Linked DNA regions of Homo sapiens: regions 1 and 3 are each linked to region 2. The links come from fine-mapping of genetic effects on gene expression. A gene starts in region 2. Each other region holds a variant in brackets. All regions are shown on one strand. Distances are between the middles of the regions.

Region 1 (10,584 bases), 58 kb before region 2:
TGCAACGGTGCGATCTCGGCTCACTGCAACCTCCGCCTCCCGGGTTCAACCGATTCTCCTGCCTCAGCCTTCCAAGTAGCTGGGATTACAGGCATGTGTCACCACGCCCAGCTAATTTTGTATTTTTTAGTAGAGATGGGGTTTCTTCATGTTGGTCAGGCTGGTCTCGAACTCCCGACCTCAGGTGATCTGCCCACCTCAGCCTCCCAAAGTGTTGGGATTACAGGCGTGAGACACCGCGCCCAGCCAGAAAAATTTTAAAGTCTCCTCCTTGCACAGCTGAACTTGTGAACCGAGATTCCTACCCATGATACAATGATGGAGCACCTTCTTTGGGCCAGGCGGGGCCTAATGAGGCTTGTGAACCCGGGGCCTCTGCTCTGAGGCTGGAGATGCTAAGATCTATGGTGGATACTGCTTGCCTCAGGCACGGGACAGGTGACAGGAGAGCTGGAGCCCAGCAGGCCAGCAGATGGGGAGGGGAGGAGGTCTTACCCCTTCTGAGAGAACTTCATGGCCGAGTGGATGGGGTAGCCGTTGGGGCCCATGATGTTGCACCGAGCATTGCACAGCAGCAGCACGCGGACCATCTCCTGCTTCCCCAGCTGGCAGGCCAGGTGCAGCGGGGTCAGCCCTTGGTTATTCACCTGGTTCAGGCCAGCCACTGCGTTCCTTCCAAGGAGCTGATGAAAGAGGAAGGGAAGTTTGACTCCATAGGATGCTGATAAGAACGTAAAGAGGCCGGGCGCAGTGGCTCATGCCTGTAATCCTAGCACTTTGGGAGGCCAAGGTGGGTGGATCACCTGAGGTCAAGAGTTTGAGACCAGCCTGGCCAACATGGTGAAATGTCGTCTCTTCTAACGATACAAAAATTAGCCGGGCATGGTGGCAGGCACCTGTAATCCCAGCTACTCAGGAACCTGAGGAAAGAGAATCGCTTGAACCCAGGAGGCAGAGGTTGCAGTGAGCTGAGATTGCATCATTGCACTCTAGCCTGGGCAATAGAGCAAAAACTCTGTCTAAAAAAAAAGAACGTAAAGAGAAGCACCAGGAAAGCCAAGTGCCAGTGTGGATGGGAGGGAAGGGGTCGACCTGGCATGACTGTGGCTCACATGAAACATTTCTGAGTCAAGGAACTTAAAAGGTAGCTGTATCTCAGGATGGGCACTGGGGGTCCAGGTGGGAATGATTCTTGCTTTTCATTCTGTCCTGACTGATTTTTTTCTACATGCAGGTACTATGTTTTCAATGAAAGAACAGCAGTATTAAAAAGAGAGCCAGGGGCCAGGCGCAGTGGCTCATGCTTGTAATTCCAACACACTGGGAGGTGAGAGGATCACTTGAGACCAAGAGTGTGATACCAGCCTCGGCAACATAGGGAGACCCCATCTTTACCAAAAAAATTTTAAAAATTAGCTGGCGTGGCCTGGGTGTGGTGGCTCACGCCTGTAATCCCAGCACTTTGGGAGGCCGAGGCAGGCGGATCACAAGGTCAGGAGACCAAGACCATCCTGGCGAACACGGTGAAACCCTGTCTCTACTAAAAATACAAAAAAAATTAGCCGGGTGTGGTGGCGGGCGCCTGTAGTCCCAGCTACTCTGGAGGCTGAGGCAGGAGGATGGCATGAACCCGGGAGGCAGAGCTTGCAGTGAGCCAAGATCGCGCCACTGCACTCCAGCCTGGGCGACAGAGCAAGACTCCGTCTCAAAAAAAAAAAAAATTAGCCCATGTGGTGGCACGAGCCTGTAGTCCCAGCTGCTCAGGAGGCTGAGGTGGGAGGATCACCTGAGTCCAGGAGGTTGAGGCTGCAGTGAGCCACAATCACACCACTGCACTCCAGCCTGGGCGACAGAGCTAGATGCTGTCTCAAAAAAAAGAAAGTGCTAGGAGGGTTTTACTGTCTCACTTTTGGCTCAGTGCTGTCCCCATGAGGTTCATTACAACCACAGTGTACCCATGTGACACCAGGGTCACCTCACAGCAGTCCCACTGGACCTGAAGGCAGGCCAGAGACACAGCAGGAAGAGCAAAGGGCTGGCATCGAGGCCAATGTAAGGTCAAGCCCCACTCTCTCAGCTTTGTGGCCCTCCCTGGGCACGCTTCTTAATTAACAACACTGAACCTCAGTTTCTTCGGAGAGGAAAGGGGAATAATGACCTCCACCCCATGAGTGTATTCTAAGAATTAACTGGAACACATACAACACTCAGTTCAAGGTCAGGCACCAATCAGCACCGGATAAAGGACAGCTGCAGTCGTGCATGACTATCGAGAAGCGGGTGTGCACACCCCCGCATGGAGGCAGGGTCTGCGCGGCACCATGCTGGGTGCGCAGAGGATTCTCGGTGAAAGTGGAGTTCAACAGTGGGTGGAGAATTCCCTTCCCTGAGAGCAAGAAGCATAAGATATGAATCCACATTTTCTGGGCCGGGCACAGTGGCTCACACCTGTAATCCCGGCATTTTGGGAGGCTGAGGCAGGTGGATCACTTAAGGCCAGGAGTTGGAGACCAGCCTGGGCAACATGGCAAAACCCCATCCCTACTAAAAATACGGAAACTACCCAGGCATGGTGGCACATGCCTGTAATCCCAGCTACTCAGGAAGCTGAGGCACGAGCATCACTTCAACCCAGGAGGTGGAGGTTGCAGTGAGCCGAGATCGCACCACTGCACTCTAGCCTGGGAGACATAGGGAAACTCTGTCTCAAAAAAAAAAAAAAAAAAAAAAAAAAAGGAATCCACATTTTCTGGTATAACGTAGTTGCATTCTGATGCCAAGGCAGAGAGAACATGATCTTTAGAAGAATTTTCTAATTCTAGACAATAAAACATAATCCAACATCCTGCCTTTTCTGTTCAATCTAATATATGAAATAGCTATTTAATAGTATCACCCCATCTGCTTGCCCACAATTAAAAAATCACATCTTTTGCCCAGGTAATCAAAAACGTTAACAGGAGGGCCTCTGGCACAAATGCCTACAGGAACTGGAGACAGTTTGGTTTGCTTGGTTTGAATTCCTGTAAAATAGGGTTGTCCAATATTTTGGCCTCCCTGGGCCACATCAGAAGAATTGTCTTGGGTCACACATAAAATACATGAACGCTAACAACAGCTGATCTAAAAAAAAGGTCCATGCATGGATCTCATAATGTTTTAAGAAAGTTTGTGAATTTGTGTTGGGCCACATTCAAAGCCGTCCTGGGCTGCATGCAGCCTGCAGGGCCACAGATTGGACAAGCTTGCAAAAGGTTAAGCCCAGGTCCCGCTGGCCCACGAGCCCCTCCAGGCAGGCATCTGGCTCACAGTTTGTGCTCAGGAAAAGTGGAACTGAACTAACTGACTGGAGCTGGGCCTTTTTTGGGGTTTATTTTGCTGGGTTGGAGGCCGTCCCCAGGTTTATCAAGCAAAGAGACTGAGGACGTGGCTCCTGGAAAAGGGCTGGGAGGGAAGAGCCAGGGAGGGGTCTGCACCCTCCATGAAGGAGCTCAGGCCTCAAGGACCAATGGGGGACAGTGAGAGGCCTGAGAGTGACACCTGAGCCTAGGGGCCCAAAGGGAACCGTGGACACCGGGAGGTATCAGTACCAGTCACCCTGCCCCTCCCCCTGCTCACCTGCAGCACCTGAGAATTGTCACCCTGGACAGCATAATGGAAGACGGTCTCTCCCTTGTAGTCGGTGACATCCATCTGAGTGTGGCAGTACTGCACCAGCTCCACCAGGATCTCCCCATCACCCTTGCGGCAGGCCAGGTGCAGGGGTGTGCAGCCCTCCTCGTTCTCCGCGCAATTGGCACAGCTGCAGGAGAGGGCCAGGGTGAGCAGAGGTGAGCAGGTGTGGTACAAGGTGGCAGGGGGACCTAAGTGCACATGCAGGGAAGTGCACTCGGAAACTCGGACTTTCTGGTTTATTTGAGCTCAAGAGCATTCCCGCCACTCAGCTAGTTGGGCTGATTTGAATGTAATTATATCTGATGTGACCTGTATCAGGTTTCTGTTCAGTTTGCTCACTCGTACAAGAGATGGGCCCCAGGGCCACACCAGCAGGAAGTGGGCAGGGTGGTGGCACAGGAAAGGGTCACAGAACACGGATATCTCACTAGCCTCAGGCAATTCACTTAACCTTTCTGGGCGTCAATATCCTTATCGACACAAGCTGCTGTGCCTGCCCCAGGAAATGGACAGAGTGATGGTGAGATGAGACAGTGCTGTCCAAAAGCACGCCTGGAAACTAAAGTGCAGTGAGGGTTTTTGTTTTGTTTTGTTTTTTTGAGGTGGAGTTTCACTCTTGTTGCCCAGGCTGTAATGCAGTGACACAATCTCGGCTCACTGCAACCTCCGCCTCTGGGTTCAAGCAATTCTCCTGCCTCAGCCTCCCGAGTAGCTGGGATTACAGGCGTGCGCCACCACGCCTTGCTAATTTTTTGTATTTTTAGTAGAGACGGGGTTTCACCACGTTGGCCAGGCTGGTCTCAAACTCCTGACCTCAAGTGATACACCCGCCTCGGCCTCACAAAGTGCTGGGATTACAGGTGTGAGCCACCACGCCCGGCCAGCAGTGAGGTTTTGAGTTCTGGGCCTGGGAGCTTAACTGAGCTATCTAGGATAGAGACTCAGAGGAGGTGTGGCTACCTCTGCACAAGATGGCCAACTGGTGCCCTGTGCAAGGGTGGGGACAGTGCCCTCACCAGGGGCAACAGCTGCTCCATCTGCTGGCTGAATGGATTCACAAAAGGAGGCCTTCAGCTTCCAGAAGAGCAGCCTGGGCAGACACCAAGGATCCAAGCCCCTCTTTCACCCTCTCTGGCTGAGTGACCTGCACAAGTCCTGTTAGCTCTCTCTAGAATGATGATACCTGGGCCGGGCATGGTGGCTCACGCCTGTAATCCC[G/A]GCACTTTGGGAGGCCAAGGAGGGCAGATCACCTGAGGTTAGGAGTTCGAGACCAACCTGGCCAACATGGTGAAACCCCGTCTCTACTAAAAAACACAAAAAAATTAGCCGGGCGTGGTGGCGGGCGCCTGTAGTCCCAGCTACGCGGGAGGCTGAGGCAGGAGAATGGCGTGAACCCGGGAGGCGGAGCTTGCAGTGAGCCGAGATCGCGCCACTGCACTCCAGCCTGGGCGACAGAGCGAGACTCCGTCTCAAAAAAAAAAAAAAAAAAAAAAAAAATTACCCGGGCATGATGGCACATTACTGTAATCCCAGCTATTCCGGAGGCTGAGGCAGGAGAATCACCTGAACCCAGGAGGCAGAGGGTGCAGTGAGCCAAGATCGCGCCACTGCACTCCAGCCTGGGTGACAGAATAAGACTCCGTCTCAAAATAAAATAACATAACGTAACATAAAATAAAATAAAATAAAATAAAATAAAATAAAATAAAATAAAGTAAAATAAAATGACGATACCTTGTGGGGGTTGGGAAAATTCAATTTCATGGTGGGTAGAAATCAGCTCCCACAGACCTGGCACCTGGTGAGCACTCCGGACTCTGGAAACATTACATTGTCCTTCTTACATTTTAATCTGGTAGCAACGCAGCACCTTTTTTTTTTTTTTTTTTTTTTTCCTAGAGACAAGGTCTCATTCTGTCACCCAGGCTGAAGTGCAGTGGTGCAATCATAGCTCACTGTAAACTCTAACTCCTGGGCTCAAGCAATCCTCCTGCCTCAGCATCCCAAGTAGCTAGGAGTATAGACACATGCTAATTTTTTAATTTTTTCGTAGAGACAAGGTCTTGCTATTTTGCCAGGCTGGTCTTGAACTCCTAGTCTCAAGTGATCCTCCCTCCTCAGCCTCCCAAAGTGCTGGGACTGCGTTAGTGAGCGACCATGCCAGGCCCTGCTCCTTTTTAAGTCAAACTATGGAGGGGAACCGAGGCCTGCGGCCCCCACTGCCCACACAAGCAGGTACACACACGTTGTCCAAATGGTCTTGTTCCCTTGCTCACCTGATGATACGGCTGTGATGGAAGCACTCGCGGATCCCTAGCTCCACAGCCAGGTGGGCCACTGACCAGCTGGGGTGGTTACGGATGAGGTCGGTCAGGTGCTGCAGGACCTCAGTGTGCAGGACCTGAGGGGAGCTCTCATAGAAGGGTAGCAGCTGGGAAGAATACTGATGGAAATTCACTAGGGCGTCAGCCTCCAACTCCAGCTGGAAGAGTCTGTAGAGCCAGGACAGAGGAGCAAGACCCGAAATGAGTAAGGCGGGACCCTCGGCCCACATCCCTGCTGGAATCAGAAGGTCCCCAGGCTGCGGCCTGGCCAGCTCCAGCCCGACTCCCCTCCCAAGCAAACACACACACACACACACACACACACACACACACACACACACACACACACCCCTATACACATGTAAATGACATAATGGCGTTTAGGTTAGACTTTCTTTGTTTTTTAGAGACAAGGTCTTGCTCTGTAACCCAGGCTGGGGTGCGGTGGTGTGATCATGACTCACTGCATCTTCGAATTCCTGGGCTGAAGGGATCCTCCTACCTTAGTTCCTGAGTAGCTGGGATTACAGGCATGCACCACCATGCCCAGCTAATTTTTTTTTTTTTTGAGATAGAGTCTCATTTTGTCACCCAGGCTGGAGTGCAGTGTTGTAATCTCACCTCACTGCGACCTTCACCTCCCGGGTTCAAGCAATTCTCCTACCTCAGTCTCCAGAGTAGCTGGGATTAAAGGCGTGTGCTGCCACACCTGGCTAATTTTTTGTGTTTTTAGTAGAGATGGGGTTTGGCCATGTTGCCCAGGCTGGTCTCGAACTCCTGAGCTCAGGCAATCCACCCCCCTCAGCCTCTCAAAGTGCTAGGATTTCAGGCACTAGCCACCGTGAGCCACTGTGCCTGGCCTAATTTTTTTTTATTTTTGTTGACAGGGGGTCTTGCTATGTTGCCCAGGCTGGTCTTGAACTCCTGGCCTCAAGTGTTCCTCCTGCCTCAGCCTCCAAAAGTACTGGGATTACAGGTGTGAGCCACTATGCTTGTCTAGATTTTCCTTTATTTTGAAAAACTTTCCTTTTCTTTGGTAATATCATTTATTATTTTTATATTTTATTTTACCACAGCCCTGCCATATCCACTTTCTAATTTCATTGCCACATGTGAGAGCTCCAGCCTCGAGTACTTGGCCCCTCTTCATAGTAGGAACTAAGTAAGTATTGTTTAACCTAAATGTACAGCAACAAAATATTATATAAATTATGGTATAACTATGTAATAAACTATTATGCAGTCATTAAAATGAGATATTTAAAAAAAGGGAAACTTTTCTTTTTCTTTTCTTTTCTTTTTTTTTTTTTTGAGATGGAGTTTCATTCTTGTTGCCCAGGCTGGAGTACAATGGCACGATCTCGGCTCACTGCAGCCTCCATCTCCCAGGTTCAAGTGATTCTCCTGCCTCAGCCTCCTGAGTAGCTGGGATTACAGGCACCCGCCACCATGCCCGGCTAATTTTTTGTATTTTTAGAAGAGACAGAGTTTTGTCATGTTGGCCAGGCTGATCTTAAACTCCTGGCCTCAGGTGACCTGCCTGCCTGGGCCTCCCAAAGTGCTAGGATTACAGGCATGAGCCACTGCGCCCGGCCAGCTTTGTTCATTTTTAAGTGTTGAGGTTGAGTCCAAGTTTTGCTACTAAGGTGCTGTGTGATCTTGGGAAATCCTTTTCCCTCTCTGAGCCCCATTTGAAACATGAGACTAACTGTACCTGTCCTACCTACCTCCCAGAGGTGCTGTGAGGACAGATGAAAAACCACTATAAAAGCACTTTCAAAACCATAACCATTATATGTCAGTGATGGTTACTTAAAGTTCTGACCAGGGCTTTTAACATACCAAAAGGTTTTGTCTTGCATACCTCTACAAGCGCAGCAGCCAGCCAGAGTCTAGTGAAGGCAGTGCCCAGAGAGTGTTGGCTCAACGGGACCAGCCTGTTGTTCCACAGAGAGTGCGTTGATTAACAGTTAACTACTGGGCATGTGATCTGTGCCAAATGGAGGGGTCAATTAATGAACAATTGCATAAAATGCTCTGCCCTCCTGAAGCCTTTTTTTTTTTTTTTTTTTTGAGACAGAGTCTCACTCTGTTACCCAGGCTGGAGTGCAGTGGCGCGATCTCAGCTCACTGCAACCTCTGCCCCCTGGGTTCAAGTGATTCTCCTGCAATTCTCCTGCTTCAGCCTCCCTAGTAGCTGGGATTACAGGCGCTTGCTACCACGCCCAGCTAATTTTTGTATTTTTAGTAGGCACAGGGTTTCGCCATGTTGGCCAGGCTGGTCTCGAACTCCTCACCTCAAGTGATCCACCCATCTTGGTCTCCCAAAGTGCTGGGATTACAGGCGTGAGCCACTGTGCTTGGCCCGAGCCTATGTTATTATGGAGGAGATCAACAAAATGACTAAAGTAAAAACATAGAATAAGGAAGTACATTAAATAAACTATAACGTAATCAGTGTTACAGAAACAACAAAAACCACAACAAAGATAGGGAAGGAGGAGGCGGAAGGAAGCCATTCCTCATTGCCCTTGGCTGGGTTTTTCCTTCATCTCACCAGCCTCTCAACATCAGGGTACTCCACATCAAGTGTTGCCGATATGTCAGAGAATGACAACTGAAAACTCATCACTGGAATTAGCATCACGGAGGCATGCACGACCTTGACAACATTACTTTTAGTGGAATGGAGGGAACCAAGGCCTGATTAAAGTGGGTTTAAGGACACAATGTGAGAATCTGAAGATTGCAAAGATAGATATTTTTGAGGAGTTTTGCTGTGGTGAGGAGCAAATAAAGGAAAGGATAGCGAATGGGGAAAGTGTAATCAGGCATTTGAATGCTGACGGGAACGATGATTCTCTCTCAGAACTTCCACTTTCCATTAACAGCAGACTAGGGAATGTGAAACAGACCACCTACTGAGGACAGCCAGAAATGCTGGACAAATTATTAAAAAACATCTGCTGGCAGGCACTGGATACCTCAAAAGACACTGATGACTCACCAGGCTGGAAGGAATGATGGAAACCCAGGAATTGCAGTGTTCAGGTGGCTGTTACTGGAGAGGATGGGCAGACGAGCAGCACCAGTAACAGCCTCATGGGGCTCAGGACACAGGGACTGGAGCCCAGGCGTCTGCCAAGAGGAGAGCCCTGATGAACATCTCTTACTTTGGGTTAGGGTCCTAAAGAACTACGTAGCCTAGGAATAAGGGTGAGCCATACACAGACACGCTCTCACAGAGACCACAGTTCAGCCTCAAGTGATTTCAGTTCCAGAAACTAGACTGAGGTTATCCTAGTTGCAATGGGAGAAGCAAAAATAAATTCATTCTTTGTAAGGAAACATCAAACTAGGCTCTAGATTATTTCTTTTTTTTTTTTTTTTTTTTTTTTTGAGACGGAGTCTCGCTCTGTCACCCAGGCTGGAGTGCAGTGGCGTGATCTCGGCTCACTGCAACCTCTGCCTCCTGGTTCAAGTGATTCTCCTGCCTCAGCCTCCCGAGTAGCAGGGATTACAGGAACGTGCCACCATGCTCAGCTAATTTTTTGTATTTTTAGTAGAGATGGGGTTTCACCATGTTAGCCAGGATGGTCTTGATCTCCTGATCTCGTGATCCACCTGCCTCAGCCTCCCAAAGTGCTGGGATTACAGGCATGAGCCACTGCGCCCGGCCATTCCAGATTATTTCTACGAGCATACTTGCAAATACAATGACCAACACATAATCAAAACTCACCAGGCATATGTGGAGATAAGACATGAAAGAAAACCAACAGAAACAATATACAAAAGAAACATATCTGTGAGGGGACTGTAAATATTTAAGTTATCCAAAATAGACTTTAAAGTAACTGTGATAACATTCGAGAGGTTAAAAAAGGAAATTTAGAATTTTGGTGAAGAGTTTTGAATGATCAAAAAAGCATCAAATGGAAATTACAAAATTAAAAAATATAATCAGGAAAGAGTAAACAGAATAAAGCATGGAGAGACAGAAGAATACAAAATATAGTAGAGTACATAAGAGACACAGACTATCTAATAAAAGATCTAGCATACATACATAAGTGGAGGATCAGAGGCAGAGTAGAAAAAGAATCAAATGGAAGCTACATTTGAAAAGTTAATGTCTGCAAACTTTCCAAAACTGATTTTTAAAAAACATTATAGGTCAGGCACAGTGGCTCATACCTGTAATCCCACCACTTTGGGAGGCCAAGGTGGGTGGATCACCTGAGGTCAGGAATTCCAGACTAGCCATGGCGAAACCCCATGTCTACTAAAAATATAAAAATTAGCCGGGCGTGGCGGTGGGTGCCTATAATCCCAGCTACTTGGGAGGCTAAGGCAGGGGAATTGCTTGAACCAGCGGGGCGGAGGTTGCAGTGAGCCGAGATCACGCTACTTCACTCCAGCTTAGGCAAAAGAGTGAAACTCCATCTCTGATCACGCTACTTCACTCCAGCTTAGGCAAAAGAGTGAAACTCCATCTCCAAATAAATAAATAAAATTATTCTGCTGATTTAACATACCCTATAAGCCCTCCCTGACCCCACCACCAAAAAAAAAAAAAAAAACA
Region 2 (10,584 bases):
TCTAACCTGATATTATTGATCTTTTATTATATACTAAGCGCTGTGCCAGAGGCTTATAAGTGCAAACACATTATGTTGTTTCACAGCCTGCAAAGGAGGCACTATTAGCCCGGTTTATAGAGGGTGGAGATGACGTCAGCTGATGAGGCGTGGGGCCAGGATCTGAACCCGACAGGCTGACTTGAGAGTCCCTACTTTCAAAAAACAATTTTTTTTTTGAGACAGTCTCGCTCTGTCGCCCAGGCTGGAGTGCAATGGCGTGATCTCGGCTCACTGCAACCTCTGCCTCCCAGGTTCAAGCAATTCTCCTGCCTCAGCCTCCTGAGTAGCTAGGATTATAGGCATGTGCCACAACTCCCGACTAATTTTTTTTTTTTTAATTAAGTAGAGACAGGGTTTTGCATGTTGGCCAGGCTGGTCTCAAACTCCTGACCTCAAGTGATCTGCCTGCCTTGGCGTCCCAACGTGCTGGGATTACACTGCGCCTGGCCAAATTTTCTTTTCTTATAAGGACACTGGTCAGATTGGATTAGGGCCTACCGTATATATTTTAATTTACTTATGCCTTTTAAAACTTTATCTCCAAATACAGTCACATTCTGAGATTTTTAGGCATTAGGACTTCAACATACACATTTTAACATTATGAAATTCCACCCATAACACTATCTATCTATATGTATTATTTTCAGAACCATGTCAGAGTAAATTGCAAACATGATGCCTTTTACCTCTAAATACTCTAGTGGGCCAGGCACGGTGGCTCACACCTGTAATCCCAGCTCTTCAGGAGGCCGAGGCAGACAGATGACCTGAGGTCAGGAGTTCAAGACTAGCCTGGCCAACATGGTGAAACCCCCGTCTCTACAAAAATACAAAATTTAGCCGGGCATGATGGTGGGTGCCTGTAATCCCAGCTACTCAGGAGGCTGAGGCAGGAGAATCACTTGAACCCAGGAGGCAGAGGTTGCAGTGAGCCAAGGTCGCACCATTGCACTCCAGCCTGGGTGACAGAGCAAGACTCCATCTCAAAAAAATAAATAAATAAATAAATAAATAAATACTCCAGTGTATATTTCCTAAAATCAAGGACACATTCTCTTCTATGACCACAGGACAAGCATTGAAGCCAGGAAGTTGGGCATCCATGCAGTAATTACCTCATCTACAAACTCCGTGGCAATTTGCCCCTTACTGGTGATATTAACTTTGATCACTTAGCGAAGGTTGTGTCTGCCAAATTTCTCCACTGCAGAGTTATTATTTTTCCTTCCATAATTAATTATCATCTTGTGGGTAAATAACTTGAAACTATGTAAATACTTTCTCATCAAGCTTTCATATCCATTGGTGATTCTTGCTGCAACCCATGATTACTATGGTGGCTGCCTGATGGTCATTTCTTTTTTTTTTTTCTTCCTCTTCTTTTTTTAATAGAGACAAGATTTCGCCATATTGCCCAGGCTGGTCTCAAACTCCGGGCTCAAGTGATCCTCCTGCCTCGGTCTCCCAAAGTGCTGAGAATACAGGTGCGAGCCACCATGCCCAGCCTGAGCTCCCACTTTTAAATAGGACATTGCACCATGGCCCTTGATCTTGACCAGAAAGGGAGCTATGTCTATGGGAAGCAGTCCCTGCAGGGTGGATAATGAGGCACTGACCCCCTTGTTCTGGCAGGCTGGGGATGGGAGTAAAGGATCTAGGCAGCATGGTGTCCAGGAGTGTTGTTCAGGTCCACTGAGAATTCACTCACTAGCTGAGCACCTACAGTGTTCCAGGTGTGGCCCCAGCTCTTGAGAAGCTCATAAAAAAGGGAGTAGATTGGGAGGCTGAGGCAGAAGGAAGGCTTGAGGCCAAGGGTTCAAGATCAACCTATGCAATATGGTGAGACCTCCATCTCTGCAAAAAATAGAAAAATTATCCAGGCACAGTGATGCACACTTGTAGTCCCAACTACTCGGGAGGCTGAGGTGAGAGGATCGCTTGAGCCCAGAAGTTCAAGGCTGCAGTGAGCTATGATCATGCCACTGCACTCCAGCCTGGGCAACAGGGCAAGACCCTGTTTTGTTTTGTTTTGGTTTTGGTTTTAAAGGGGGTGGGGGGTAGAGAAAATAGACAACTCACCATTGTGCAGTTTCTAAAACTGAGAACTTTCCTACCCCAAAGGTTAACCTAGGTGGCTCTTTCTGCTATGCACATGGAGAGGACTGAGCAATTGGTTTTTAGAGATCCTTTTGAGTGCTAGACAAAGCTGCCTCAACATTTGGTCACTTGGGAAACTAGTGGGCCAATTTGCATACCAAACCCACAGCCTGTGGGAGGGAACGGAAAGAAGCCATAGTGTCTGGTGGACCAAGGCACAGAGGCAGGAAAGCAAGACAAGGGCGCTGAAATCGAATTTGCTACATCAAGGAAAGTGGGGGGCTGGGCGCGGTGGCTCACGCGTGTAATCCCAGCACTTTGGGAGGCCGAGGCGGGTGGATCACGAGGTCAGGAGATCGACACCACGGTGAAACCCCGTCTCTACTAAAAATACAAAAAAAAAAAATTAGGAGGGCGCGGTGGCGGGCGCCTGTAGTCCCAGCTACTCGGGAGGCTGAGGCTGGAGAATGGCGTGAACCCGGGAGGTGGAGCTTGCAGTGAGCTGAGATCGCGCCACTGCACTCCAGCCTGGGGCAACACAGCGAGACTCCGGCTCAAAAAAAAAAAAAAAAAAAGGAAAGTGGGGATCCTTACTGGTGATCAGGGTGCCACATAGAGGCCTACCCATTTGGAGAGGCCCTATGCCCTCCACAGTGGAGTAAGTGCCATGATGTCGGCTTCACAGGAGGGACTGTGGGAGCGATGGAATTTCAGGCAGTGGGAACATCATGAGCAAAGGAAAGCAGGGGATGAACAGCAACATCCACCCCGCACGTGGCCTCCAAAGCCATCTCTTTTGGGTGGGGCTTCCCACCACGGCGCACACCCCTCATGTTTATGTGGCCCTCCTCCCCTGGTTGCGATGTACCCCCAAACATCTGGGCCAGGAATCATTCAGACCTGGATACCAATTCCAGTGCTTGTACTTCCTAGCTGAGTGAATTTAGAAAGTCACCTTCACCTCTCTGAGCCTCCAGTCATGTATTCCTTCAACATGTATTTACTGTGGGCCTACTATGTGCCAAGCACTACTCCAGGCACTGGGCAGGCAGTGGTGAACAAGATAAGCCTGGCCAGGCGCAGTGGCTCATGTCTGCAATCCCAACACTTTGGGAGGCCGAGGTGGGTGGCCTGAGGTCAGGGGTTCAAAACCAGCCTGGCTGGGCATGGTGACTCACCTGTAGTCCAGCTACTGGGGGGCTGAATTCCTTGAACCTGGGAGGCGGAGGTTGCAGTGAGCCAAGATTATGCCACTGCACTCCAGCCTGGGCAACAGAGTGAGACTCTGTCTCAAAAAAAAAAAAAGAAAAAGAAAAAGAAGCAAGGCCTGCCTTCATAAAACATACATTCTGGTTGGGGAAGACAGACAATAACCAGCACTCACATACATAAATGATGAAACACCCTACAGAAGTATTAAGATAATATAAGAACAAATTTCAAGGCTGGGTGCGGTGGCTTGCGCCTGTAATCCCATTACTTTGGGAGGCCAGCGTGGGTGGATTGCCTGAGTCCAGGAGTTTGAGACCAGTTTGGGCAACATGGCAAAACCCTGTCTCTACAAAAAAAAAAAAAAAAAAAAAAAAAAAAAAATACAAAAAATGAACCTAGCATGGTGGTGTGTGCTTATGGTCCCAGCTACTTGGGAGGCTAAGGTGGGAGAATGGCTGGAGTCCAGGAGAAGGAGGTTGCAGTGAGCCGAGATTGTGCCACTGCACTCCAGCCTGGGTGACAGAGTGAGACCCTGTCTCGAAAAAAAAAAAAAAATTCAGAGGTGAAGACTGCTTTAACCAGGGTGGTCAGGAAATGTCTCTCTGAGGCAGTGACATCCGGGCTGACGTGAAAGATGAGAAAGAGTCAGGCAAGTGAACAGAAGACCAGACAGCCAGTGCCAAGGGCCTGTCGCAGGAATGAGCTTGGTATGTTTGGGGGACAGAAAGAAGGGCACTGTGGCCGAAGAGCAGTGGATGAGGAGAGAGTGGCCAAAGAAGGTGTGTAAACAACCTGAGCTTTGTTTTGAGAAGAACATTGGCTGGTATAGAAAGAAAGACTTTGGAGGCAAAGTAGGGAGCCTCGGAGGCTGCTGCCATTGTCCGGGTAAGCTGATGGTGCCGAGACCAGGTGCCATGACTGGAGGTGGTGAGAAATGGTCCTATGCAGGAGACCTGGAGACACCGCTAGCTTGAGTCCTGAGGTGGGGAGGAAGGGAGAGGGAGGGATGGAGCCAGGCTCCAAGGTTTTGGCTTGAGCAGCTGAGATGGGGTGGCAAGGGAGCAGAGGTAGGGCTGACGATCAGGAGCGGGTTTTTGGGCCGAGTCCTCTGCAGTGCCCATCTGACACCCACTGGATGCGCAGAGTGGGCAGCTGGCTATGAGTCTGGAACTCAGAGAAGCTGTTCGCTCCGGAAATACAAACCTGGGGCTCATAGCCATATAAATGTCATTTAAAGCCACGGGACTGGATGAGATCATTAAGGCAGAAGGTCTAGGTCGAAAGAAGAGGGCCAGGACCACTACCTGTAAAATGAGCCAATGACACCTACACCCACGGGGCTCTCGCGAGGTGTCACGTGAACGCACCCAGCGAGCCCTGGAACCAGGCAGAGAATCGCGGCAGCCCCGGGGGCGGGGCTTCCAGGGGGCGGGGTCATACGGGGGCGGGGCCGAGGGACCAAGCGGCCGCTCCTGGCCGGAGGGCGGCCGGGTCGGTGACGTCACCGCATGACTGGGTTTTTATGAATGAAAGGAATCCTGTGAGTGAGTAATTCCGGGAAGCTCGCCTTACAACTCCGCGCGGCCTCGGCCCCCTGCGCCGCCCGCCCCACAACAAAACTCAGCGCAGCGCTCCCGGGCGCCCGGTTCAGAGCGACCTGCGGCTCAGAGCGGAGGGGAGACTGACCGGAGCGCGGATCGGGACAGCGGCCGGGACAGCGGCGAGACGCGCGTGTGTGAGCGCGCCGGACCAAGCGGGCCCAGAAGCGGGTGAGGAACGCGGGACCAGGAGGACGGTGCGCGGGACCCCAAGGCGGCAGGGTTTCTGCGTCCCGGGATGCGCCTGGGGTGGGCGCCCGGGCCCGATCCGTCGGGGCTCCCGGAGCTCCATCGCCCGGACGGCTCGGGGCGGGGAGAAGGGAGCGGCCGTCCCGGGGACGCCGAGGACGGGGCCGAGGCCAGCTCGGGGGAGTGGGGGTGGAGACGGGGCCCCTTCCCGGGGCGCGGGCGGGTAGGCGGCGGCGCCGGGAGGAAGGGGCAGCGCAGGCCGGCGATCTCCGCGTCCGCCCGGCGGGGGCGGGGGCGCTGTGCTCCTACGTGACTCGGTGGGAACAGGCCCTGGCCCGGCGCCCGCGGGCGGTGCGTGCGCGGTTTGTTTACGTCCGAGGGCGGGCGTGTGTTCCCTGGCGGGCGGCCTGGGTATCCTGCCCGGTGCGTGCGTGCGCTGTGTACCTCGGGGGCGTGTGTGCGTGTGTTGTGCTTGTGTGTGCGTGTCCGCGCGCGCGCTCCCTGGGGCCTGTACACCAGCAGTGTGTACCTCGGAGAGGGCGTGCCCTGGGCCGGCCACCGGAGTAAACGCGGAACAAGGACCCGAGCGAAGGAAGCGGACCCGTGCGTCTTCGCACGGGGTCTGGGAATTCTGGCCCGGGCCGCCCCAGTCCTACTACCCGGGGCTGTCCGTCCCCGGCTCTCCCCGGAGTTTCCCAGGGCCTCCGCCACGTGACCCCAGTGTTTGTCTCCCGCCCAGAGCCCGCGCCCGCAGCCACAGGGTGGGGCAAGGTATCAAAGACCCCACCCAGCTGAGCTAGGAGTGAGGGATGTGAGCCACCCCCGCTTGGCACCCCGGTGGATCTGGTAACAAAGTGAGTTGGAGCCCAGGTTCTTGTCCCCAGATTTTGGGGCTTCCTGGGGAGGGAAGAACCAAGGGACTCTCGTTCGTCCCCAGGGTTGCCCATCCCCTCAGTCCCATGAGAACAGGAAGGGCCAGAAAACCTTGACTGCAAGGGTGCGGCGCAGGGAGAGGACCACAGGCTTTTAGCTAGTCCGGGTTCTGGAGGCTGTACCTGCTAGGTCGTGGAGGATGGGGCGGAGCCGGTTTCCGCTCTCCTGGTAGTTTCAGTTCACAAGTGGGACTGGTGAGACTAGACTGACCTACAGCTGGACGCCGGAAGCTAGCTGAGGCTCTGAGCCAGCCGACAGACCCCGAGTGCCCTCACCCTGGGCCAGGCAGGGTCAGTAGGCATTGGGGATAGAACTCTGACTGCACGGAGGGTTAATGAGTGAGGGGTGGGGCCTGACCTAGCCGCCACCCACCCACTCACCCAATAGCCCTGCAGAAAGCACCTGTTTGTCGTAGCCGCCTGCAGGATGGGCTGGGGGCTAGAGATTCCTTGGTCTTAATCCACCTTCCCCCTCCACCCACCCACCCACGGTCTATGGAATTGTGGGAGGGGAGCAATTGAACTTGCTAGGGTGAGGAACCAATGATCTTTTGACTTTGGATCTTTGAACCCTGGGTGAGCTCTGCTACAGCAGCCCGGACCCTCAGTATTCCCATCTACCACTGGGAACTAGGTAACAGCCAGGATGGCAGGATGGTGGGTAGAAGGGGGAAGCTCTGGAAGTCTGTGCAGACAGCGTATTTTCCAGGTGAATTGTGGAAGAGAAAGCAGGGCTGACAGCCCCATGCCAGGAGCTGGGGGTACCCAAGAGTAGGTGGGGTTTGAGTCAGGAGGGTTGGGGCCAGGAGCACAGGAACCAGACAGGCCCACCCTCAAAGCTGGGCAGGAAACATTACAAAGTAGGGCCTGGGGTCAGGGGATGAGGGGAAGTGGCTGGTTGACTCAGTCCCAGATGGAAAGTTAGCACTGAGAAGTTTAACTTCCCATTGAATCACCCCTGGGCCCTGCATTGCCATTGGGCCCTTGTCCTGGACCAGATGCCAGGGATGAGATGAACAGACCAGATCCAGAGACTGCCCTCTGGGAGCTTATAGCTCAGCAGCGGACACAAACTTGAAAAAAGATCCACAGAAGTAAATGCAAAACACAGCTTAGATGGGTGATGTGAGGGAGAAGTCACTGTGGTTTGAAAGTACATAACAGCGCTCTGACTTAGCCAGGGCAATCAAGGAAGGCTTCCCTGGGGAGGTGACTAGTGTGCTGAGTCTGATAGAGTGGTGGTTGTCTGTGAAGCCCTTGAAGGCAGGAGCTGTGATTCACTTCAGGGTCTCCAGGGCCCAGCACAGAGCCTGGAACATAGTAGGTGCTTCTTGGATGTTTGCTGATTGAATGAATGAGCCCTGGATCCCTGCCCTCTAAGAGCTCCACAACACATGGAGAAAAAGGCCTGGGAACCCCAGAGAAACAGGAAGCCAGGGCAGGGGCTGGGGGAATCTTGAAGCAGTCTCCCAAAAGCGAGCAAATCCTTCAGGACTCAGGCAACTTCCTCCCTCACACACACAGGCATGCACTGCCCGCTTGTCCCTTTGGGAAACATTCAGGGATAGTAGAATTTGCTGTCTGTTCATTCATCTGTTAGCATACGATCCTGGGAGAGAGTGGACAGGAATACGGTTGAGGCCTGAGGACCCTACTGTGTTGGCTTGCGGGGAGGCTGGCATTGCAGGGTTTTGAAATGGGCCAAGCACGGACAGGCTCGTGGGTTTGTGTCAGTAGTGATTCCTCTGACAGCTCTTGGGGGAGGATCAATGATGGGGATTGGAGACGGAGGGCAAGGCAAGAGGCTGGTGAGCAGGCGGTTGTGGTCATGGTCCAGATGAAGGAGGAAGTGGTCTGTGGCTGTGCAGGTGGAGAAGAGGGCTAGTCTGATAGTCTGATAGTTTGTGTCTCATGCCCCCACCTCCAGGAAGCCTTCACCGCTTTCCTTTCCCTACCTCCATTCTGCTGGTGGTCTTGGAGCTCTGGGCCAGAATCTGAAACTCTAAACTCAGAGACAGTCATTGTTGGAAGGTACCTTAGGCTCGGAGGACGTTTGGCATAGTGGGAAAACTGAGGCCCAGAGAGAGGGAGTGCCGTACCTGAGGCCACACAGCGAGTGTGAGAGGGTACCTGAACTGGGGCTGGAACCCCAGGCCGTTGCTTCTCTGTGGTGCTTGGTTCTTCCAGCCTTGCTCCCCTTCCAGCAGGGAGGAGGCTCCAGCAGTGCTGACTGCCAAGAGCTAGGAAAACACATTTTTTCCCTGTCCTCACAGAGCGAGCAGAATGGCTCAGCAGCCAGAAAGGAGCCCATGCCAGCGGGTGGGCCTTCTACAGGATGTCTCTGGAGTGGACTGGTGGGGCCAGGGAGGGGGACGTTGGAGGGTTGTGGCTGCTGACTGGACAAGGCAGTTGTCAGTCCCTCAAGAGTCACCTCTCTCCTTATGCCTCCAGAAGACGTCATGAACCTGCAGACCCTGGAGGTCAGCTCTGCTGGCTTCCAAGGGAAGAAGCCAGGGAGAGGTGGTGGTGGCCGACATAGAAGACAGAGGACCCCTGGGTTCCAGTCCGCCACGGCTACCAAACAGTGGCTTGGTTGCCTCAGGTGCTGAACAGGGGATCGGATCAGCTACTATTTCTCAGGCCCAGGGTCAGCCAGCCTGGCAAAGGCAGAGGACCCAGGCCCCTTGGCAGCCCCTGGCCTGGGGTTGGCAGCGGAAAGCCTGAGGTTACCAGAAAGTTCCCCCTTCTTGTGACTTTCCCCCTGTGATTGCCTGACTGCTGAGCTAGGACATTCCTGGGCAAACGTGGGTGCCTCAGCTGACATCCAGGATGCGGTTGAGGGGGCTGAGGCTCGGACAGGAGGGCATGGAGGAGTGGGGGAAGAGCAGGTTCAAAACCTTCCTAGCACCTGAGGGTATTTACAATCACAGCCAGCTTCCGCTATTATCAAGGATAGGGAATGGCTGATGGTTCCATCTCTCAGGCCTGGTCTGGAGGCAGTGTTGAGGATTCTAGGCTGTGTCCAAGCTCAGGAGAAAACAGTTCTGTGCTGAGAAAGACTCAGGGGCTGTGGCCTGCCTCACTGGGAATTGGTGCTGTGTGTGGTTAGTGATGTCTCTGTTGCTTGTGGATAGTGGGATGATGGTGAGATGAGGTGATCTTTCTTGCCTATGCCTCCTTTTTTTTTTTTTTTTTTTTTGATGGAGTCTCGCTCTGTTGCCCAGGCTGGAGTCCAGTGGCTTGTTCTCAGCTCACTGAAACCTCCACCTCCCGGGTTCATGCAATTCTTCTGCCTCAGCCTCCCAAGTAGCTGGGACTATAGGTGTGCGCCACCACACCTGGCTAATTTTTGCATTTTTTTTTTTCTTTAGTAGAGACAGGATTTCACCATGTTGGCCAGGCCGTTCTTGAACTCCTGGCCTCAGATGATCTGCCCACCTTGGCCTCCCAAAGTGCTGGGATTACAGGCGTGAGCCACCACGCCTGGCCTTGCCTAAGCCTTTATATTTTACACACCAAGATTATTGTGATTATTCCCACTTAGCAAGGAATCCAGGACTCAGGAAAAATGACTTGTGCATGAGGCCAGACTGTGCCTCTGAGGTTCTGTATCAGCCGCAACACCCAAAGGGCAGTTGATTAACTTGCGTGGGGAGAGGCTTCCCTTCTCCCATTGGGTCTTTCTGTGTAGCTCAGGTGGCCAAGCATCACTGCACGTGCCAGCTCCCCAAACGGCTGGTAAGGGGGCCTGGATACTTAACTGTAACTTGCAAATCGTATCCCTAGCGGGCCCAACACAAATCCTGGAGAATCAGAGCTGGGGTGGCCTTGGAAACTGGCAAGTCCAGCTTCATCTTCACAGGGCTAGGGAAACAGGGCCCAGGGAGGTCGCCCTGCCAGGGCCACACAGGGAGGAGGTGTGTGGCTCCATGTGGCCTCAGGCCTGAATTCTATTATTATTATTATTATTATTTTTGAGATGGAGTCTTGCTCTGTCACCCAGGCTGGAGTGCAGTCGCGTAATCTCGGCTCACTGCAACCTCTGCCTCCCAGGTTCTAAGCGATTCTCCTGCCTCAGCCTCCTGAGTAGTTGGGACTACAGGTGTGTGCCACCAGGCCCAGCTAATTTTTTGTATTTTTAGTACAGACAGGGTTTCACTGTGTTAGCCATGATGGTCTCAGTCTCCTGACCTCATGATCCGCCCACCTCGGCCTCCCAAAGTGCTGGGATTACAGGCATGAGCCACCTTGCTTGGCCATCTTTTTTTTTTTTTTTTTTTTTTTTTTTTTTTTTTTGAGACAGAGTCTCGCTCTGTCACCCAGGCTGGAGTGCAGTGGCGCGATCTCAGCTCACTGCAAGCTCCATCTCCGGGTTCACGCCATTCTCCTGCCTCAGCCTCCCCAGTAGCTGGGACTACAGGCGCCCACCACCACACCCGGCTAATTTTTTTTTTAAGAGGCGGGGTCTTGCTTTGTCACCCAGGGAGTGCAGTGGCGGGATCACAGCTCAC
Region 3 (10,584 bases), 28 kb after region 2:
CGTCCAGCCTCTTGTCAGCATAGACCTTGTAGGTGAAGGCGTGCCGCAGGGCCAGGGCTGCAAAGAACATCTCCACACAGATGATGAAGTCCTGGTAGCCGGCAGCCACGGTGCCCTCGCCCACCGACACGCGGGCCGAGTGGATTTTGGGGATGGCCCCACACTTCTCCAGGATGGCCAGGAGCATGCCTGGATGGGGAGGCACGGGTGTCTGGACCCAGAATGATTCCTTTCCTGCTCCCCCTTCTTCCACAATGCCCCATTCAGCTGCCCACATGCCCCAGTGAGGATGTGAGCAGGGCCACAGCTGCTCCTGCAGGGCAGGGGTAGCGACACAAGGCCACAGCCTCCGGAAACCCCACTCTCCCAGCTCTTTGCCACCGAAACTGAGATGCCAGCAATTACGCAGGGTCTCCTGGGCCCTCTCATCCATGTAGCGGCCCCACCAAAGCTCTCCCTAGCCCCTGGGAAAGGCCCTCGAGGGCTCAGATTTCACCCCCAGCAAGTGCCCAGTGGGCTGAGGCCCCTCTGAACAGGCCCTACAGGCACCAGGGACCATAAGCAGAAGGGGCAGCAGGAAGCGCAGAGGACAGGGTGGCATGGGCAGCCTCCAGGTGCTGGGAGGGGGCTCACCTTGCCAGAAGGAAAGAAAGATGACGGACTTGACCATGAAGAACTTGAGGACGGGGCTGTAGGGGCTGAGCAGCTCCCGGGTGGCGAAGTAGAAGAGGAAGAGGGCGTAGAGGGCCAGGCTGACGGAGATGTTGTAGATGATGGTCACGTAGAGGTAGCCACTGGTGACGCTGCGGGACGGGGAGCATTTTCTGGCTGGGACAGACCCTTGGAGGGAAGGGGCTCTCCTCGACTGCACCACACACAGTCCCCATGGCTCTCAGCCCCACACCTCCAGCAGAGCTCAACGAGCCACTGAAGGGGTCAGAATGGGTGATCAAAGCGACAGACAGGGGTGGGGGTACATGGGGTGCGCCTGCAGGCCAGACCAGCTCTACTGCCTCTGCGTGGCTCGTGGACTTGTCTAAGCCCTGGTGCCCACACTCCTAACGTTGGACACCAGTGTGGAAGCCAGGGCCGGGCCCGAGGCCATAGCCTGACACTCAGATAACAGGCGTCAAAATAGGTGACGCTGCTCAGCTCTGCTGCCTTTTCACTCGGTCGGCTGCATCCCCCTGACCTCCTTTTGCCCACCTGCCCTGGCAGGGCTGTTACACAGTTCACAGACAGTGTGTGCCGAGAGCTTGAAAGCACAGGGCTAGACACATGGTCACTTTTTTTTTTTTTTTTTTTAGATATGGAGTTTTGTTCTTGTCACCCAGGCTAGAGTGCAATGGCGTGATCTTGGCTCACCGCAACCTCTGCCTCCTGGGTTCAAGCGATTCTCCTGCCTCAGCCTCCCGAGTAGCTGGGATTATAGGCACCCGTCACCACGCCCGGTTAATTTTTTGTATTTTTAGTAGTGATGGGGTTTCACCATGTTGGCCAGGCTGGTCTTGAACTCCTGACCTCAGGTGATCTACCCGCGTTGGCCTCCCAAAGTGCTAGGATTACAGGCGTGAACCACTGTGCCCAGCCACGGGGTCACTTTCACTAAGCCCAGAATGAAATGGGTGTGGACAATTTACACAGCACGGGCTTTGTATCTGTGGACTTGAGCCGACCTCTTGGGGCTCTGACCCTCTCGCTCCCTGCCTCAGCAGTGGTCACTGTCCCTTTGTGGCCCATCCCTTCATGGTACCACTCTGCAGCCTGGACATGAACGTGACTGCTGCCAATGGCTCACTCCGGGGCTGGCAGCGGGGCCAACTGCAAGGGTGTCCACTGCTGGGCTCAGACTTCAGGGGGGTTGTGAGCACCAGACACCCAGGAAGGTCATGGCTGTGCGGCCACTCTGGCTGCCCCCTTCCCTGAGCCAAGGCACCAGCCTGCGCCAACACTCCTCCCACACACCCCGGGGAGCACCCGCTGCTTACTCAAAGTCCCCATCCCGGTACTTGCCGAAGGCCTGGAGGACCACAGTGCTGACCGCCATGAGTGGCTTCACCACACAGAACTGCAGGGTGGCCTGTTGGGGGGAAAAGGAGGTTGAGTGTGGAGGAGGAGCACAGAAGGCATGAAGCAAGCCCTGCCTCTGGCAGACGGAACTGTACCGGATGGAGGGACAGAGAGGATGAAGGAGACGGAGAGGACGGAGGGATGGAGGGACGGAGGGGATGGAGGGACGAAGGGATGGAGGGGATGGAAGGATAGAGGAGATGGAGGAGATGGGGGGTGGCTACGTGTCCTGCTCCCAGGGGACTGCTGTCTGCGCGGGGCGGGGGGCAGAACATATAGGAGATGCAGCCAGCGCAATGCCGTATGTGATATGAGCATGTGGAGGAAGGGAGGGAGGAAGGGAGGAATGGTGTGGCAGGGCACGATGGAGGCGGGAGACAGGAGATGCACACAAGGAAGCTTCTCGAGCCAGGACCATCAGGTGGGTGCCGGAGATGAGAGGCTCGACAGGCAGAGGGGGCAGCTTGCACCAAGGCCCCGAGGCAGAGGGTGGACAGGTGCAAGGGGCTGCGCACTAGAGAGGTGGCTGAGGAGATGGGCAGGGCCAGGTCCTGGAGACCTTGGTGCCCGGGGCAAGGCTAGGGCCCTGCTCAAGGAACCAGCCACCGGGAAGCCGGCGCAGGTGAGGGCCTCCTCCCATCCTCCATGTCCACCCCCGATCTGGTTCCTAGCCCTACTCTCTGGGCCTGGGTCCAGGGTTTCTGGTCAGCAGAGGTCACTCTGGGGATGGAGGTGACCTGCAGGAGCCCAGAGCACGTGGACTCCAGAGTCTCAAAATCTGAGTTTGAACTCTGGGGACAGCTTGGGCAGACACTTGGCCTCTGAGCACAGACTCCCTGATGAAAAGGATGTAGTCACTCCCCACACCACAGGGCCACTGCTGCGGGGATGGCACAGCCAGGAAGCGCAGCATCTTCTCGGGAGTCTCCCGCCTCTGTACATGCACTAACGGCGCCTGCTAGCTGGCTGAGCCACGGAAAGAGTTCCTCAGCCAGGTTTTCCCGATTCCCTACGGGCGGACCCATGGTGCCCATAACATCACTAGTATCACCATTATCTAGAAAGCAAATAAATCTAAGCCCTAAGACCCCTTCTGAGGAGCTGGGGGAGGTTAAATCCAATCCAAAAGGCTCAACTAGTGTAGCTGCAAAGAGGACGAGGAGCCTGGAGTGGGAACCGTGATCCGTGAAACCTGCAGCTTCTGCCCCAACTGGGGATCTGAGTGGGTCTTGCAGGGGAGCCCCAGGCAGCCCACACCATGGGGCTGCCATACGGAGAGGCCCGCGTGATGGGGCAGACGTGCAGTCCCACTCTCAGAAAGCCCCACAGAACGTCCCTGGCCCTGTCATCCCGCCTAGAGAAGTGGGACTGGCACCTTCTGGGGAAAAGGGAAGAACGGCAGTTTGCATGAGTTCCAGTTATGAGCCTAGCAACAGGCTGGTGTTTCCCTGGGTCAGCTCACCTGGTACTCATGACAGCCCCCTGACGTGGGTGCTGTCATTATCCCCATGGTACAGGTGAGGAAACTGAGGCAGAGAGAAGCTGAAGCAGCAGCAGCAGCAGCAGCAGAGCCCAGGCCAGCAGGCCCCAGAATCATCACCTGACCATACCCTGGACCAGTCAGCAGTTCCCAGGCTGGGCTGGACATCAGAACCCCCAGGGAGCTTTAGACATGTGCCAGGTTCCAGGGCTCCATTCCAGAACTTCTCCTATGGGCTAGGGTAGTGGGTGGTTGATCTGGGAATCTCTACTTTAAGTAGGGAATCTCTCCAGAAGGTCTGGATATTGAGCACTGGCCCTGAGGAGTCAAAGGCCTGTCTCTGTGCCTCTAGGACAAAGCTGTGGGGTGTGCTCTCTCGCCCTGGTAAAGAAAGGAAGAGGCCTCTTTTGTTCTCTTTCTTCTTATATCTCTCCCTGCCACCGCCAGGAACAAGAACAGAACATCTGAGCCCACAGGGCTGGGGAATAATTTCTAACAAGGCCACACTAGCTAACAATCATGAAATCAAAATTTTGTAGACAATATAATCATCAAACAAGGCAGTGAGTCACAGCTGGCCGGAACCTGGGTGGCTGCACCAACTGGTAAACAATGGCTCTCAATGCCCCACCCTGAACCCAGGATAGTTTTAACTCTTTCCCTGCAGGTCCAGTGGTGAGATTCTGAATTTAGGAACATGCTAGGGAAGGAAGGTCTGGAAGCAGAACTGGAGACTTGGCATGTTCAGGTGGAGGCTTTGTGGGTGTGCCCGCCCTGTGGCCTGGGCCCTGCACAGAAGGGAGCAGCAGGCCCCGCCCTCCAGGGCCATCGTGACTTGGCTGTGGGTTTCATGTACTTTCGTGACTACTCTTGGCGAAGCTGGAGGGGCTGACATGACAGAGCCCCTACGGAGCCCCAGAGGAGACTAACGCAAGGTCATGAAGAGTGGGCGTGATCCCCTCAGACTCTGCCTCCCTGAACAGGAGGCCGTGGGCTCCACCACGCCGGGCTGAAAGCTCTACATCCATGACCTCATCTGATCCTCACAACCATCTCTAGAGAGGAGTATCATTACACTCATTTTACAGTGGAGGAAACTAAAGCTCAGAGAGGGTAAGCCAATTATCCAAGGTCACAGAGTCAGAGGAAAAGCTGGAAATCAGGCTCAGATGGTCAGACACCCAGGCCCACACACTGAGCGACCCCACCACACTGCCCCCACCCAGGCTACTCTAGACCACAGGGAGGTCAGCCCAGGAAGCTAGAGCAGCTGGATTGCCAAGGCTACTCTAGACCACAGGGAGGTCAGCCCAGGAAGCTAGAGTGGCTGGATTGCCAAGGCTACTCTAGACCACAGGGAGGCCAGCCCAGGAAGCTAGAGCGGCTGGATTGCCAAGGCTACTCTAGACCACAGGGAGGTCAGCCCAGGAAGCTAGAGCGGCTGGATTGCCAAGGCTACTCTAGACCACAGGGAGGTCAGCCCAGGAAGCTAGAGCGGCTGGATTGCCAAGGCTACTCTAGACCACAGGGAGGTCAGCCCAGGAAGCTAGAGCGGCTGGATTGCCAAGGCTACTCTAGACCACAGGGAGGCCAGCCCAGGAAGCTAGAGCGGCTGGATTGCCAAGGCTACTCTAGACCACAGGGAGGTCAGCCCAGGAAGCTAGAGCGGCTGGATTGCCAAGGCTACTCTAGACCACAGGGAGGCCAGCCCAGGAAGCTAGAGCGGCTGGATTGCCAAGGCTACTCTAGACCACAGGGAGGTCAGCCCAGGAAGCTAGAGCGGCTGGATTGCCAAGGCTACTCTAGACCACAGGGAGGCCAGCCCAGGAAGCTAGAGCGGCTGGACTGCCAAGGCTACTCTAGACCACAGGGAAGTCAGCCCAGGAAGCTAGAGCGGCTGGATTGCCAACCAGGAAATGCAGGGAGAGACGAAGAGACGGCAGAGGCCTGTTCTGGCGTGTGTCTTTAATGCCAAAACCCTCCTGCCCCCTAGCTGCAGCTGATGAGAAGTTTTCAAATGGAGGTTCTAGAATCCCCACGCACTTCTTCTGATTTTCACACACACTGAGACTTGGTCACACGAGCAAGAGTCTGGGATCAGCTCTTGCCCACAGTGCAACAGACACTCCCAGGATGTCGGTCGCTGCCCCTCCAAGCACACCCTGCTAATGTGGTATCTGCCTAACAGCTTCGGGGGGTGGGTGCTGGG[G/T]GCCTGGGGTGCCTCATAGGAAAGGGGACCTCTAAGGTGGGGCCCAGGGCAGCCCACGGCAGGGCCTCCCAGACCCCGCCCTGCTCCTCCTGAGCTAGGCAGCTGCTGGGGGCACACACCTGTTTGCAGAACCTCAGAAATCCGATGGAATAAGTCTTTCCCCAGAGGCAGCAGGTGCCATACATACAGCTGGACCTGGAAGAGACAAGCATAGCAGGCAGTGGCAGTGAGTGAAGAGCCAGGACTTGGGAACAGTGGGGTGGGGAAGGCCGCCCTCCCACCCATCCAGACGAGCTGGGGCACACATTCTGGGCAGACTTTGAACCCGAGGCCAAGCACAGGGAGAGGCATGGCAGGGCATCCGCACATGCCATAGGCGGAGGGACACAGGGCTGCACTGGCCCTGGGGTGACAAACCAACTTGGAGAGCTCTGAATGTAAAAACTGCAGGAGGCAGAAACAGACAGGAAAGCACTAAGACTGAGACAGGAAGAGACAGAGAGAGAAAGACTGAGCCGCAGAGGCCCTCCTAAAACGCCCAGAAGAATGGCGTTGCTCAGGAAATGTGGTGAGGCACAGCAGGTCAAGGTCACGGGCAGACATGGTCTGTGTCCAGCTGGTGCCAGGACGGCTCGAGGTACACCAGGCCCAGGAAACGGGGTGGTTTAGGGCTCTGGGAAGACTCCATACTCACTCAATGGGTTTTCCTCTGATCTCCGACATGATGGAACTTTCTCCTCCTAGGTACTCATAGCACAGGCTCAGGAAATTATAGATGACCAAGGCTGCGAAGAGAGTGTCCAGGAGAAACCAGTCAAATCAGCAGAATGGGTCCGCAGATGCTGGGATTCTAAACAGCAATGGAGGTGAAAGAGCCACAGCTGTGTGTGGCAACAGGGAGGAGGCTGGGGGACATAAGGTTGTGCAAAAGGAGCCCGTCAAGAACACAGACATCTGACCTCCCACTCCTAAGTTCAAAACCCGGCACACCTAAATTATCTTATCCCGGGATGCACCCCTGCACTGGCGTAATACTATGAAGGGACTGTCGTGAGTTCAGGGTTATGTGGGGAGGCCAGAGGAGGCTGAGGTAAGGGTGGGTACTCAGGAGGTTTGGGAGGGCTGGCAGTGTCGACCCTGGGGCGAAACAGTATTGCCTTTATTAGTTTTTCCGGGCGCAGTGGCATGCGCCTGTGGTCCCAGCTACTGCTGCGGCAGGAGGACGTCTTGAGTCTGGGAGTTCTGGGCTGTAGTGTGCTACACTGATCTGGTGTCTGCACCAAGTCTGGCAGCAGTACGGTGACCTCCTGGGAGTGGGGGATCACCAGGTTGCCGAAGGAGGGGTGAACCAGCCCAGGTTGGAAACAGAGCAAGTCAAACTCCAGAGTGGGATCGCACCTCTGAACAGCCACTGCACTCCAGCCTGGGCAACATAGCGAGACCTCATCTCTAATGTATTTATAAATAAATATTTGTCTTACATACTTGTGTGTTACAGGTCACAATTTTATAAGATAACAACAAAACAGTCTCTGTGAAAATCTTGGGAGAAATTCCAAGCAGGAGTGAGAGGGAAGAACCTTCATCCAGTCAACAACCTGTAGCGGTATCCGGAATACGCACAGCACTATGAGCTACAACAAAGCACACGGCAGCACACAGAACACAGTAAAAACCTTGGGAAGCTTGGGCTGCTCATTCTAAATTGGGACTCGGCTCAACATCTCCACAAAGACCCAAAATTTGCCACCGGGAGTGATGGCACAGCAAGTCTGCTGTAAATGTTGATGCTATAAATACAGCAACACGCTGTAACGGGTCTCCTGGTCAGGTGGTTCCTTCTGGGTCAGCAAAATGAAGGCTGCTGCCTGCAGGGTGCTAGAGGCAAATGGACATGCCAGGATGGAGGAGAGTGTGGAGAAGGCGGGGGAAGGGGTGCAGCAGACGGTACCCAAAATGAAAGAACGCAAGAGGAAGAGCCAGGGTGAGGACATGGGAATGAGGATGGGCATCCAGTAAAGGCACAAGGCCAAGGGGAGGGGCAGAACAGGGTCAGAACAGGTCGAGGGAGCCACGGTGGCCCTCCAGCCAGAGGGCTTCTTCTCATCTGACCCCGCCAGCCCCTGCAGTACAGAGTCCTTTTAGGCTCCCTGGTGCCGCCCAGCTTGGCACTTGATCTTTCAATGGGTGACCTGGTCCCTGCCCAAGCTCCCGCCACTCCCGAGCAGCACTAATGCTGCACTTCTCCCCAGAGCAGGTTCTCTTATCCTTCGGTGCTTCTGCACTCCCAGATCCCAGAGGTTCTAGCACCCTTCCCGCTGTACTCTCAGGATCCATCAACCCCAGCTGGGATGGCACCCAGTGTGACAAGTCCCCGGTGACCATCGTGGAGGTGAGTGCCCTCCTACCCACGGAACCTGATTTGCAGACACTTCCCACCCTGTGTCACAATGACTGGTCTCCCCCTCTCGCCTTCCTCAGGACACAGGTGCCACTCATGGCACACACGGGGCACACCACAACAGTTTCACTGACTGAACTGGAGCGTGGAAAGCCCTGGTGATGTTTTTTAGGCAAAGCTGGCCTTCAGCGATTTGGAAAGGAACACATTTGCGGCATTTTATGCTACTCACGGTTGCCCTAATCCATTAAGGGCTCCCATCTCCAGGTGGCATCCCCATGTATATGTCCCCCAGCACTGACCACGCCTTGTTGTGACTGTCCCTTCACCCTTCACACACATACAGCAGAGGTATGCGATGTGTGTGAGCCTCTTTGGGTTCAGTTTCCTCATCTATCAAAGGGGATCACAGGAGCACCAACTTGGCAGGTGGCTGTGAGGCGTGAGCATGAAAGTGTTCAGAAGTGTGTCCGGGGCTCACTGCGCTGGGTGTTGGCTGTCACGACCATTACCGTCTATCTGCTGCCTGCAGGGCCAGGAGCCCCTAGACAGGGCTGAGGGCTGTGTGTACTGCCTGCCTGTGCTGGAGGCAGCTCAGGATGTCTCAGGACAGACAAGTCTCCACCAATCTCCAGATGACTCTTCACCAGCAAGAACTATGGGGCAAAGGGAAAGGGGTGGGCATTAAGCCAAACCTGATGTCAGCCTGCCAGTAACCTCTGTTCAAAACCTCACAAGGCCAAGCACAATGACCGTGTCCATTCTAAGCCGGGTCCAGCTATATCATGATGGTTGTATTTTTTTTTGTTGTTTTTGTTTTTTGTTTTTGCTTTTTTTGAGACAGAGTCTCGCTCTATCCCCTAGGCTGGAGTGCAGTGGCACGATCTTGGCTCACTGCAACCTCCACCTCTAGGGTTCAAGTGGTTCTCCTGTCTCAGCCTCTGGAGTAACTGGGATTACAGGCGCACACCACCACACCCAGCTAATTTTGTATTTGTAGTACAGACAGGGTTTTACCATGTTGGCCAGGGTGGTCTTGAACTCCTGACCTCAGGTGATCCGCCCACCTCGGCCTCCCAAAGTGCTGAGATGACAGGCGTGAGCCACCGCGCCCGGCCGACGGTTGCATTTTCTAGACTGCCACACCTCGTGATGCTGACACCCCTCCTCTGAGAGGTGGGGTCTTGTTCCCTCCCTTTGTATCTGGTGGCCCTGAGTAACCACAGCCAAAGTGATGTTTTGTGACATCTGATGTAGGGGTTGGAAGAGGCCTCTTTCCTCTGGCTCTTTTTCCCTTGAATGCCTGTCCTTGCACTCAGTCACCATGCAGCGGGGAAGCACGAGCTAGCCTTTGGAGACACCGCACAGAGAGGCTCATGTGAGGGAACCGAGGCCTTCAGCTGACAGCCAGCATCAACTGCCAGGCACACAAGGGAGTGAGCCTTCAGGTGATTTGCCCCAGCCTTCACGCTCTCCTGCCAAGGCCCAGAGGTCATGGAGCAGGGACAAACTATCTCCCCTGCACCCAGTCCAAATTCTTGACCTATAATATCCATGAAGAAACTGGATGGTTGTTTTACACTAGTGTGTTTTGGCAGTAGTTATTTGCACAGCCATGGTAAGTGGAATACAGATAAAACCATGACTGAAGCTCCTGGGACGTGCTGTGATCACTCACGCCTGCATGCAATGGTACATTCTGGTCCCTCTGCTCACCGCAGAGGCAGACCCCACTGAGATGCCGCCTCTTCTGTCCTGCACCCTGCTTACTTCACACATCACCCCTCTCTGGGCTCTGCCTGATCCCTCCGGCACAAAAGCAACATTAAGTAAGGTAAAGAGCCATGGGCCCTGGAGACAGCCTGCCTTGGTTGTGAACTGTGGTCCCACCTCTTAGGAGCTGTGTGGCCTCAGGCAAGTGTCTTAAGCGCTCCATGCCCGAATCTCCTCATCTGTAAGCGGGATAACTCCTCCCTTGGTGGGGTCAGGGGCTGTGAACGTGCAGAGCCTTAGATGAGCTGAGGGCACAGTCAAGAGTCCACGGTGTGTTACCTACTGCTTTTTCCAGACTGTAAACTCCTTGCAGGTAGAATGCAGTCCTACCTCCAATGACTACCGGAGGGCCTGGCAGCTACAAACATGTCATCAACACTGAAGGAAGGAATGGACAGACGTACATGGACCATCTCCCCAGGGGAGCCTGCCATGACAACAGGCTCAGGCAGGGCAGGAGGGGACACCCCACTCTCATTCCAACACTGGAGGAGCTCCTCTCAGAGGCTGGCCCCAAGACTATCAGCTTTCCAGTCTCGAACAACAAAACCCTCCAGGGAAGCCACAGGGGCCCCAGGCCCATAAGCCCTCTCTATCTGGAAGCTCCCTCCCGGGAGAGCCCATCCCTGCAGTCCTCTCCCAAGAAAGGCT

The links. PIP is the estimated chance that this variant, and not a neighbour inherited with it, causes the effect.
Region 1: its variant is fine-mapped to the expression of MAFF in whole blood (TOPMed, PIP 0.94).
Region 3: its variant is fine-mapped to the expression of MAFF in blood mononuclear cells (TOPMed, PIP 0.92).

The regions. Positions count from the first base shown.
Region 1 is chr22:38,139,487-38,150,070 of GRCh38, forward strand. It overlaps PLA2G6 (phospholipase A2 group VI), which reads right to left. Exons shown (of 17, transcript NM_003560.4): 3 at 5,952-6,167; 4 at 3,619-3,802; 5 at 496-683. Among named protein-coding and RNA genes, the nearest start is that of BAIAP2L2, 34 kb to the left of the region's middle. RefSeq lists an enhancer at 3,263-3,763. The variant G/A (reference allele first, on the strand shown) is at 4,894.
Region 2 is chr22:38,197,090-38,207,673 of GRCh38, forward strand. It overlaps MAFF (MAF bZIP transcription factor F), which reads left to right and starts at 4,905. Exons shown (of 3, transcript NM_012323.4): 1 at 4,905-5,123. RefSeq lists enhancers at 1,993-2,042, 7,427-7,571, 10,411-10,555, silencers at 4,732-5,061, 5,122-5,561, 6,412-6,491, 7,712-7,761 and cis regulatory regions at 7,499, 10,476-10,493.
Region 3 is chr22:38,224,791-38,235,374 of GRCh38, forward strand. It overlaps TMEM184B (transmembrane protein 184B), which reads right to left. Exons shown (of 9, transcript NM_012264.5): 4 at 6,454-6,544; 5 at 5,879-5,954; 6 at 1,989-2,080; 7 at 634-803; 8 at 1-189. TMEM184B-AS1 (TMEM184B antisense RNA 1) reads left to right here and starts at 6,530. Exons shown (of 2, transcript NR_186700.1): 1 at 6,530-6,625; 2 at 7,258-7,458. It also overlaps the pseudogene RN7SL704P. RefSeq lists enhancers at 1-369, 4,194-4,924. The variant G/T (reference allele first, on the strand shown) is at 5,760.